2 separate regions of the Homo sapiens genome follow, and region 1 is linked to region 2. The links come from fine-mapping of genetic effects on gene expression. Tissue or cell type: sun-exposed skin. Region 2 holds a variant in brackets; the other region holds the start of a gene. All regions are shown on one strand. Distances are from middle to middle. Region 1 holds the start of WNT16 (Wnt family member 16). Region 2 has its middle 27 kb from the start of WNT16.

The links. PIP is the estimated chance that this variant, and not a neighbour inherited with it, causes the effect.
Region 1: it holds the start of WNT16, and the variant in region 2 is fine-mapped to the expression of WNT16 in sun-exposed skin (GTEx, PIP above 0.99). The same link has a PIP of 0.9 or more in unexposed skin.

What each region holds. Positions count from the first base shown.
Region 1 is chr7:121,326,982-121,331,981 of GRCh38, forward strand. WNT16 (Wnt family member 16) reads left to right here and starts at 2,019. Exons shown (of 4, transcript NM_057168.2): 1 at 2,019-2,406; 2 at 2,586-2,836; 3 at 4,697-4,983. The coding sequence starts at 2,312.
Region 2 is chr7:121,299,554-121,305,085 of GRCh38, forward strand. No RefSeq gene overlaps it. Among named protein-coding and RNA genes, the nearest start is that of WNT16, 27 kb to the right of the region's middle. RefSeq lists an enhancer at 2,780-2,849. The variant G/A (reference allele first, on the strand shown) is at 2,436.

The DNA.
Region 1 (5,000 bases), 27 kb after region 2:
TTAATTCACTCAATAAATTTTGTTCAAAAACAGGATCTTATGTACTAGGCCCAATGGCAGGGGTACAGCAATGAATCCGCCATTGTCCCTCTTGGAGAAGCTCACAGAATAAAGTGAGCTTGGATGAAGGCTCTGACTTTCAGAGAGGCCACTAGCCGTTAGCCAAAATATTTCTGGATCAGTATCTACATCCTATCATCAACTTGACTCCTCGACTCTTTAAAATGTGGCTTTAGAACCTGGTACATAGTGTACACTCAATAAACATTTGTTGGATAAGGGAGTGAATGGGATAGGATGAAAATTTCAGTGAGCTTTTATTGCTCACTGATTGATATAGGAGATAAGCAGCTAATGCTATCTAATCCTTTTTTTTTTTTTTTTTTTGAGTCGGAGTCTCACTGTGTGCCATAGGCTGGAGTGCAGTGGCGCTATCTCAACTCACTGCAACCTCCACCTCCTAGGTTCAAGCAATTCTCCTGTCTTAGCCTCCCGAGTAGCTGGGATTACAGGCATGCACCACCACACCCAAATAATTTTGTATTTTTAGCAGGGACAGGGTTTCACCATGTTGGCCATGCTGGTCTTGAACTCCTGACCTCTGGTGATCCGCCCATCTTGGCCTCCAAAAGTGCTGGGATTACAGGTGTGAGCCACTGCACCTGGCCCCAAATCCTTTATTTAAGTAATTTTGGCTTTGGGTACCCACTGAGCTGATACGTCCACCATGGGAATGTATTAACACTTCAAAAGATCTCTAAGGACAGATAATGCTTCTTAGAAACATTTCTTGTGTCTAATTAGGTGAGGCAGGCTTTCCCAATACCACAGCTAAACACGTTGCACTTGCCTTCAGATAACTCTCGGAGACCTTCCATCCTACAAAACACTGATTAACTAACCTTCCAAATCTGCCAGTAACTGGAACACTTCCTGCTTCTGAACTATCTTCGGCTCCAGGGAGTACCCTGCTAGATTCTTTAATCTCTCTTACTGATCATCTAAACGTATTTTCTTTTACACTTGTGTATGGTTTATTTGTACAGTTGTGGGAAGAGAGCTTGTCTTTATAAATTCCCACAGGACTAGGCACACAGCAGGTATTTAATAAGTACGTTTTTAAAAATGTGTCTTCCATGTGTAGCCCTGTCCTGCAGGGACGCATCGGGTAGGTGGCAAAGGGGTGCCCAATCCTAGCGAACTTTCAACTGAGGTTGGGGGAGAAGGGCAGGGACCCTCCCACCATGAGAATCGTAAGGTAGGACTGGAGAAAAAGATCAGAGCACATCTCTCATGTACTCTAGAACTCTCCAGAAACCTCTCACTTTCTTTGTCCCCATCTTCTGCAGGGGACTTACAGCGTTCTCAGGGACTGCAGGAAATAAGACAAATAGGGAAAAGGAAATCACAGAGCACGATTGAAATATGGCAGATGAGATGCTAGACTGGAATCTTCTCTTTCGCTCAAAATAAATGCATACATAAATGACAGTGATTGTAAGCCTGACAGCACTTCACCCACTCTCTAAAGTCTCCTGACAGTGGGACCTCAAGCAGGGGACTGGAAGGTTAATTTGTTCGGTACCAACTCTGACTCAAAAAGATTATTCTCCTGTGAGGTGAAGGAGAAGAAAAAAAGGTCAGTGACATTTTCCAGCCACTACACCCAGAGGGTAACCCAGATGTTGGTGGGATGGGTGGGACTCATCAAACCCACGCTTTCCCCCAAGGTTGCTAAGACAGAGCGTCCTGTTAGTCTTCGGGTTGAATCAACCCCACAACGACCCGTTCTAAGGAGACTGTGACAGCAGGAAAGGTCATGACACACCCAGGTCTGGACACGCTGTCCCTGAGGCCAGTGCCCGGAGCGCCCCCCGCGGAGCCGCTCTCCACCAATAAGAGCCTGAGGTCCCGAGATGATGAGATGCGGGGCCGCTGCTCAGCCAATCAGGCTCCAGGCGCGGCCAGGGGGAGGAGATGGGAGGAGAGGCCGGGGGCGATGGAGACGCGGATACATCAACAGAAGTTTCTCACCTAGGAATGCGAGGGGCGCTCCCGCATCTCCTGCACATCTCCACCCCTGCGCAGGAGGAGATCCCCAGGCTGCTCTCTCCATCTCTCCTACAGCTCCCTGCAAACGAGGGGGAAGCTGCTGAGAGTCCCTATCACTGCTGGCCTTTTAATGTTGTATGCAAGGAGGAAGAGGGCGAGGGATAACTTGGTGCTGGACAACTGACCTGCGGCCCGAAGGGCCTCTGGGGAGGGGGTGCAAAAGAGGAGCGGCTGGGCTGGGGGACTCCATGCGGGGGCGATGGACAGGGCGGCGCTCCTGGGACTGGCCCGCTTGTGCGCGCTGTGGGCAGCCCTGCTCGTGCTGTTCCCCTACGGAGCCCAAGGAAACTGGATGTGAGTATGGAGGTGGCAGGGAAGCATCGGGTAGGTGGCAAAAGGGGTGCCCAATCCTAGGGAACTTTCAACTGAGGCTGGGGGAGAAGGGCGGGGACCCTTAGACGAGTGACCTAATTTTTCGGAAAACATCTGGAATTGGGGAGCGGCTTAACGCTACGGGCGGCCGTGTCTTACAGGTGGTTGGGCATTGCCTCCTTCGGGGTTCCAGAGAAGCTGGGCTGCGCCAATTTGCCGCTGAACAGCCGCCAGAAGGAGCTGTGCAAGAGGAAACCGTACCTGCTGCCGAGCATCCGAGAGGGCGCCCGGCTGGGCATTCAGGAGTGCGGGAGCCAGTTCAGACACGAGAGATGGAACTGCATGATCACCGCCGCCGCCACTACCGCCCCGATGGGCGCCAGCCCCCTCTTTGGCTACGAGCTGAGCAGCGGTGAGTCCTGGGTCCTTAGGGGTTGGTGGGGGACGGAAGGCGACAACTCCTCCACCGGTTCCTGCAAATAAAGTAAATAGTGCTACGTGGTCCTGTAGCTCTCTAAGTTCCAGAAGAAGCCCTTTAGTGCACGGGGATTGAGAGCTACAAAGGCCAGACCTGGGGAGCAGGTGCGAGCCTGGAGGGAGGTGACTCCCCAGTTCCAGAGCGGAGCTCTAGGGGCTGGAGCTCTTCCTCTTTCCTGCGGTGCCCCGCCAGAGTTGGAAAAAAAACTCTAATTCTCCTACCCCGCCGACCCCCTCGGACCCCGTAGCGCCCCCCTACGTGGGTGACCAGCTGGAGAAACATGATGTCGGCAGCGGGGAATGCGGCTGCCGCATCTGCTTTGATTTAACCAACTCCGCTGCGCACCAAACCCCGGACAAGTGGCTAATTGCAGCGAAGCCCCACCTTTATTGGCTCCTAGGAGCACCGAGTTGACAGAATAATGGTGACTTTTAAAGCGACTGTCCGCGACCACCCAACGTGCGGCTAACCTGAGCAGGACCACTTGTGCGCTTCTCGTTTCTTTGGCTTTTCTATCTTTCCCTCCTCGGCGCACTCCCGCGGCGCGGGAAGCTGCAGGAAAACAAAGTTCCACTTCCACGTGCGTAGTGACTTGGTAAGGATAAAGGTACAGGGAGCCAGGATTGTTCCTGGAATATCAACAGATCCAAAGAATGTTAGGACTGGGGCGCTGAAGGATGCGCTGTCGTTTTTCATGTTCATTTCCGTTCCCCCTCCGCCTTTGACCCTTGTCCACGCAGTCCCTGCGCGCACCCCCGCCGAGCCGCGCACCTCCCCCGCGGCGTTCTGGCCGGCACGCCCTTCCGAAGGAGCCCTGGTCCCCGTAGAGAGAAAAAAAAAAAAAAAAAAAAAAGAGACAGAAAGAAAAAAAATAGATGTGTTTTTCACAGTTGCTGAAATGCATCAGCTGTTGAAAAGGTTTATTGGACAGCGGGCATGAAACTGTTTCTACTCCAAACTAAACATCTGGAAAGAAAAAAAAAAAGTCGCCTGCTGATTCCCTTCTAGTCCATGTTATTAATGTTTTAATGGACTTTAATTTTCAAAGATTTTAGCTCAAACTCTACTGCAGGTGTGCTAAATGCATAATTTTCAATATTCAATATTTTTAATAGAATTATGTTTTTGCTAGTGACATTTTAATTATCTTACCTTTCATTGCCTTTAAGACTGTAAGAGGAGTAGCTAATACTATATAAAATGTTTAACTGTTTCATGTTAATGTGAGACTAATCTTTAATGTGAAAATATACGGTACCGTTTACTAATTGCTTTGGTCTTTCCTTAATTTTAATTTTCATTCTGACACGTATTATTTATGCAAACAAAAATCACACCAAAATGTTCAGCTTGTGTTCTGTGAGAGCACATTTTAAATTTCAAAAGAAAAGCAATCTAGTGTTCTTTGGGTGTTGTATTACCGTTTACAGTATCTATGCAAAGAATTTTTAATTCAGCATGTATTACTGAGCTATGACTGTCAACTGTGCACTGAACTGGGTGCAAACATACATTTCAAATTTAAAAAATAAAGAGATGATTTTAAGGTAAAGGGACAATGTATGACCATACAGTATATGACAATCTCTTCAAGTGGAATACTGAAAATTAATGTTGCTTTTTAAGAGACTAGAACAAGAGCAAATCTTCCTTTCTAAATATGTACTCGTTAACGCATCCATTGTAAGCAACTGAAAAATTACTTGTCCAGTAAGATCATGAGTAGGAGGCTTTCTTCTGAACATAAACAGAAGTTGCCTGGTTCTCTAATTTAGCAATTTATATTTTTTCTAGGCACCAAAGAGACAGCATTTATTTATGCTGTGATGGCTGCAGGCCTGGTGCATTCTGTGACCAGGTCATGCAGTGCAGGCAACATGACAGAGTGTTCCTGTGACACCACCTTGCAGAACGGCGGCTCAGCAAGTGAAGGCTGGCACTGGGGGGGCTGCTCCGATGATGTCCAGTATGGCATGTGGTTCAGCAGAAAGTTCCTAGATTTCCCCATCGGAAACACCACGGGCAAAGAAAACAAAGTACTATTAGCAATGAACCTACATAACAATGAAGCTGGAAGGCAGGTATGTATTAGAAAATG
Region 2 (5,532 bases):
TATCTCTAACCAAGATGTCTTCTTAAGGTGATTTATGTGTAGCATCACATGATTCATTTTATCATATAAAATAAAAAAATATACTTTGTATAATATGAAAGAGTAATTCCTATGAAATCCATTAAAATGTTTAGATATGTTTTAAAAGCAAAATATTTACAATTGATTATTGGTACATAAGAATTCAGAAGTAACATGGTTTCATAAATACAAAATGTATCCAATTGATTCTCAACTATATAGTGACTTATTTTATGGTTGGCTGGTGAAATGCAGCTATTTGATGTAGCTTTTGGGGCTACGCTACACAGTTTAATGATGGTATGCAATTTATTTATATATTTTGTTCAATTGTATTTCCACTTTCTTTTTTATAATAAAACCTGTTCAAAATATGCAGATTGAAATCTCAGTGTATGCCATCCAGGTAAACATTTTAATTTTCTTTCCAGTCTCAAATTTTTATTTGGTCTATAATTGGTATGCCTTTAAAATTAAATCATAAATTTGAATATTAGAAAAAAATTTAAGGACACTAAAATGAAACAACCATATGTTGTAACTTGTAATATAACCATGTATCCACTAATCTCCACTTAGGTATAAGAGGTTGTTTGGTTTCCAGTAGATCTTTTTTACGTTAATAGCTGGATATCTGGGGTTCAGAATTCTTGTGTCCGTTTTCAATAAATACACAGAAATAAGAGTGCAAAATGCCAACACTGAATGCAGTGCAGCCGAGGATAGTCCATGAGGTACATCATGGTCTGTGCAGGATTGAAAGGAAGCTACAGCATAGGCCTTCACACCAGCGGAAGCTCTTCTCCACTGGGTTTGGGGATGGATACATAAGAGCACCTTCTAGCTACCTTTGACAGCTCTTGGACATCTCTTCAACCTCTTCTTAGTATGAATCACATTGGAGGGTCCAATTTCCAAAGAAAAAGGAAATAATAATTTTAAGTCTTTAGTGGACCAAAAATTATAACCTAGATTAACCAAATAGCAAGTGAATGTGACTCTAATGATATTTTCTGAGTTAAAAATCAGGAAAAATAGAAAATGTGCTCTAATCATCAATATAGTATATCCTCAAGAACTTGAAATAGAAACCCATTTTTTACTAAATTGATTTTTTCACCGAAGGGCTTACTCATCTACTGTGATCATTCCTGCTTGTCCTTACCTTTGCCTTTGAAATGGAACTTATGCAGTATTTTTCTGTGTGCATTTAATATGTAATACAAGATACATTTTAAAGCTTACATTTTTATGTTCTCCTTCTTGCCTTAATTACATGTAACATGAAGCTTATGTTTTAATGGGCACAGGCTCTCCAGTTTTACAGTATCATAAAAAGAGTTTATGAGCCTTTTGTTAAAAATCAGTGCCTATGTCATTGGCAGGGCATGGAATTATTTGCAACTACTTCTTCTACTTATAAGATAAAATTTGGTCTGAATTAAAAATATTATGAGAGAAAACTGAAACAATGCCTTTGCAGCCCAGAATGAGTTTAGTCATCAAATGGCACAAATTTGGGTCCATCAGTTTCCACTACATGTGCATACCCACAGGGGAAAACCTGATCTCTGTTCACACTTGCCTCTATAGAATACCCATTTCAATGTTCATATTAGTTATGCAAAATCACTGGCATGTTTTTAAAAGGGTGTGGATACACCCTTAGCTCAAGTTACTCCTGCCAAGAACAGGAATTATTTCAATAGGATGGAGTTTCCAGAGCCATGCTATTGGTAAACAGCCGGAAGTCTCTCTTGGCCACCTATCCTATAAATAAATTGATACCTTCTGTGAATTATTTATGGATTCTGAGATGAGGCTGATACAGACATTGCATCTCAGATTCTTATTTCCCAGAAGAATGGACAATCACAAAGTGGGTGATTGGCTTACATGGTGTTTTTCTCTTTCCTGGGGTCATCATAAGTCTTTGAAGTACTGAGCTTCTTGAAGTCGATTTCTCTTCCAATGGAAGCATCCCTGGGAGGGATGCTTGTCAAATACAGTGAAAATAAATGCCTTCCCTTCACCACTGATCATGGACTTGTTATGCTGCCTCTGCAGACAAGAAAGTCAAAACTGTTGGGTCAAAGCCAAACCTTCCCTGGTTTGTGTCTGGGCAGAGTGTGTGTCAAATAAAAGACTTGAAAACAGGAATTCTGGATTATTTTCAAATAAAAACTCATCCATACTGTATAAATACGTGTGTGTGTGTGTGTGTGTATGTATAGATAAAATGTATGCACACACACATACACACACAATGAAATAGATAATGGAGCAGTATCAAATAATCTTATATCCATCGAATTAGTTCCTTTAAAACATTCCTTTTATTTTTTATTTATAGCAGTATGTAAAACCTTTAGTATAACAGGTTCTATATCTCTGGATGCCTTTACCAAGTGCTC[G/A]TCTGAACATGTGGGGAATGCACTTCGAGGCCTCCGCCAGGCAGTGACAGAGCAGGGAGGGACGTGTTAGGGGAGATGTTTGCTAGATGCTTTTCTTAAGAGGTGACAAGTAACCCAACTGCCAGAAATCACCAAAATAAGAAGATACTAGGAAATGTTGGACTGTGGAGTCACGAGGGCTCCAAAACTAGAGAGAACGATAAACTATAGTTTAAACTTTAAAACTACAGAGAACTCGGGGAAAGAAAGAGAGCAGGGCAACATTGTACCCTGATGAAAGTAAATGGATCAGTAAAGTTCACTTATGGGAATCACTCTCAGTAGGGACTCTGGCCACATGCCGTGCCTCTGCCCTCAGATCTCACAGGGCCTTCTCACTGGCAAATGCTGAGATGGGTGGCTGAGAGGTAAGTCATATCCCTCAGTATGACTCAGTATGACCCTCAGTATGGCTGAGGGGTAAGTCATAACCCTTAGTTATGCGGCAGCATAACTAAGTCCTGTAAACTGTGGCAGAGGTTCCGCTGGGTGGAGGACACCCAGCACGATCACAGTTCTACAGCTCATAACTTTCTTCCTCCAAATCGAATTTCTAGTTGGCCTCCACCCATTTTCGTTTCCCCTTTTTGACTTAGATGGTTTCTGTGTCCACCTCCATTATTGCATTTTCACGGTATAATTACCTACAATCATCTATTTGATTACCTTGAGCCATTCATCTTTCTACTATCCAATCTCTAATGTAGAGTAGGGGCTCAGCAAACATTGCTCTCTCTCATTCTTTTCTCTGTTCACTACTTCTTAGCTCAGATGCCATCTCCTCTAGGAATCTTTCTCTGATTCCTCATACACTGATCAAAGTATTCTTTCTTTGCATTCCTTTAGCGTTCCCTGTTTACCCCAACCCAGCCATTTTCTCTTTGTCTGTTTAAGTTTGTCCTCCCTAGAATGTAAACTCCATGCGGAAGGGACTGAGTTGTTTGTTTGATTGTGGATATGCAAAATTTTTAACTGTTTTATTGAGATAAAATTTACCTACATGAAGTTCACTCATTTAAAGTGTAAAATTAAGTAGTTTTTGGTATATTTACAGTTCTGCAGTCATCAAGATAATCTAACTTTAGAACTTTTTTATCATCCCAAAAAGAAACATAGCAGTCACTCTTCAACTTTCCCCACCTCCACTCCTCAGACTTCAGTGACCACCAATCTGCTTTTTGTTTCTATGGATTTGCCTACCTTGGATGTTTCATATAAATAAGATCACACAATATGTGGTCTTTTTGGCTGCTTTCCTTCACTTAGCATTATTATGTTTTAATCTTTGCACTCTCAGTTTAGAAACAAATTACCTGGCACAGGAAAGACACTCATGAATTTTTATAAAAAAAAAAAAAACACACAAACAAATGCACTAACAAACTCTAGCATTTTCTGGAGTTAAAAATTGTGCTCGAAATAGAAGTTATCTAAAAGGCTTTGACAACGCACTATGTTAGAAATAGTATTAATATCATCATTTCCTGATACCCTGTTTAGCAAGTACCAAATGTTTGTTCCCATTGTTTATATGTATTATTTGTAACTGTTTTATTGAGATACAATTTACCTACCATGAAGTTTACTCATTTAAAGCATAAAATTCAGTGGTTTTTAGTATATTTACAGTTGGGATTGAGGTAGAGTACGAAAGAAGTAGTTGGGGAAGATGTCAGGTACATGTGGAAGTTGTCCTCCTGGACTCAATGGGGAGGCTGCTAGAAGTTCAGGGAGCTGCTGACACCCGGTGCTGGGCCCTGAGGCTTGCAGTTTGCACAGGGCTATGGTGCTTCAGGCCTGCTCTTTGCTGTACCCCTATACCTCGCTCATCTCAGAAGAAGCAGATGTTCTTTCCACCCTGCCCCTAGCAAAACTGGAAAGGATTTGATGAAGTTATGCCCATGTCTAAATGAACCATATCTCAAGCCCTCATAACTGAAGTTTTAAGAGAGGACAAAGTAAGACATTTCTAGTTGTGGAATTTCAGGTATCGGCTAGCCAGAAATGAGACTATTAAAAGAAGCAGGGAGTATCACATAACTTATCTGGAAGAGTCTGCTATTTTGACACCAAAAATTGAGGAGCCAGGAAAAAAGCTATACTGATTGCCCCATTTAGAGATGTGAGTTATTGGAGCCTAAAGTATATGGGAAGATATTCATGCAGGCCCTGCCCTTCCAGCATATAGACCAATGGGCATGGCTTCTGATCCATACAAATATTTCTACTTGCTTTCTTTTTCTACCATACTATCACCAAATGCAATATTAATGCAACATCAAAATTCATTTTTACATTATAAATCTTCCCTTAATTTTGTATATGATAAGCGCTTACAGATGCAAATCATGTTTAAATAGAAGACATAATGGTTAAAAGAAGTATGCCATATTGTAATAATTTTGCAAACAGCTGTTTCAAGTTAGCATGTGTGTATTCCCAGTCTTGTGTATATGAGATACAAGTTAATGTCAACAGTACATTAACAATGCAACTGAATTTAATTATGGAACTGGAAGTGCTATGGGTAGAGAGATCACATTTTCACTGAAAAGTAGAGGTAGGGTGATATCTGTTTCTAGTGAGTTTCAGATAGGTACTTTTTTCTTTTACACTCACCAATTCTATATTTTTTTTGCAACAGTGCAGTAGCTAAAAGATTTCTCTGCATGTTTTTTCCTAAGTCAAGACAGTAGATATATTCTTCAGCAATTTAATTTTGCAAGTAGCATTATATGTGATTTTGAAATATGAATCTGGGAAGTAAAAAGAGGACTGCAAGGCATAAGATTGATACTCATACTTTTGTACAAAGCTGTGTCTGGTATTCAGAACAAATGAAAAGCTTTCTTGCTTTGTTACCAGATGACTCCCTACTGTGTCCAAAATTCTTTATTTTACTGCATTCTACTGTTTGAAATCCTTTCAATTAGTGAAATCACTTAAATTAACCTCCAGGCTCTCTTAAGATGCTAATATCTTTGGGAGGGTTGGGGCTATTAGACATTTACGATATGAGTGAATTTAATCACATTGTTTTTCTACCAATAGCTGGCTA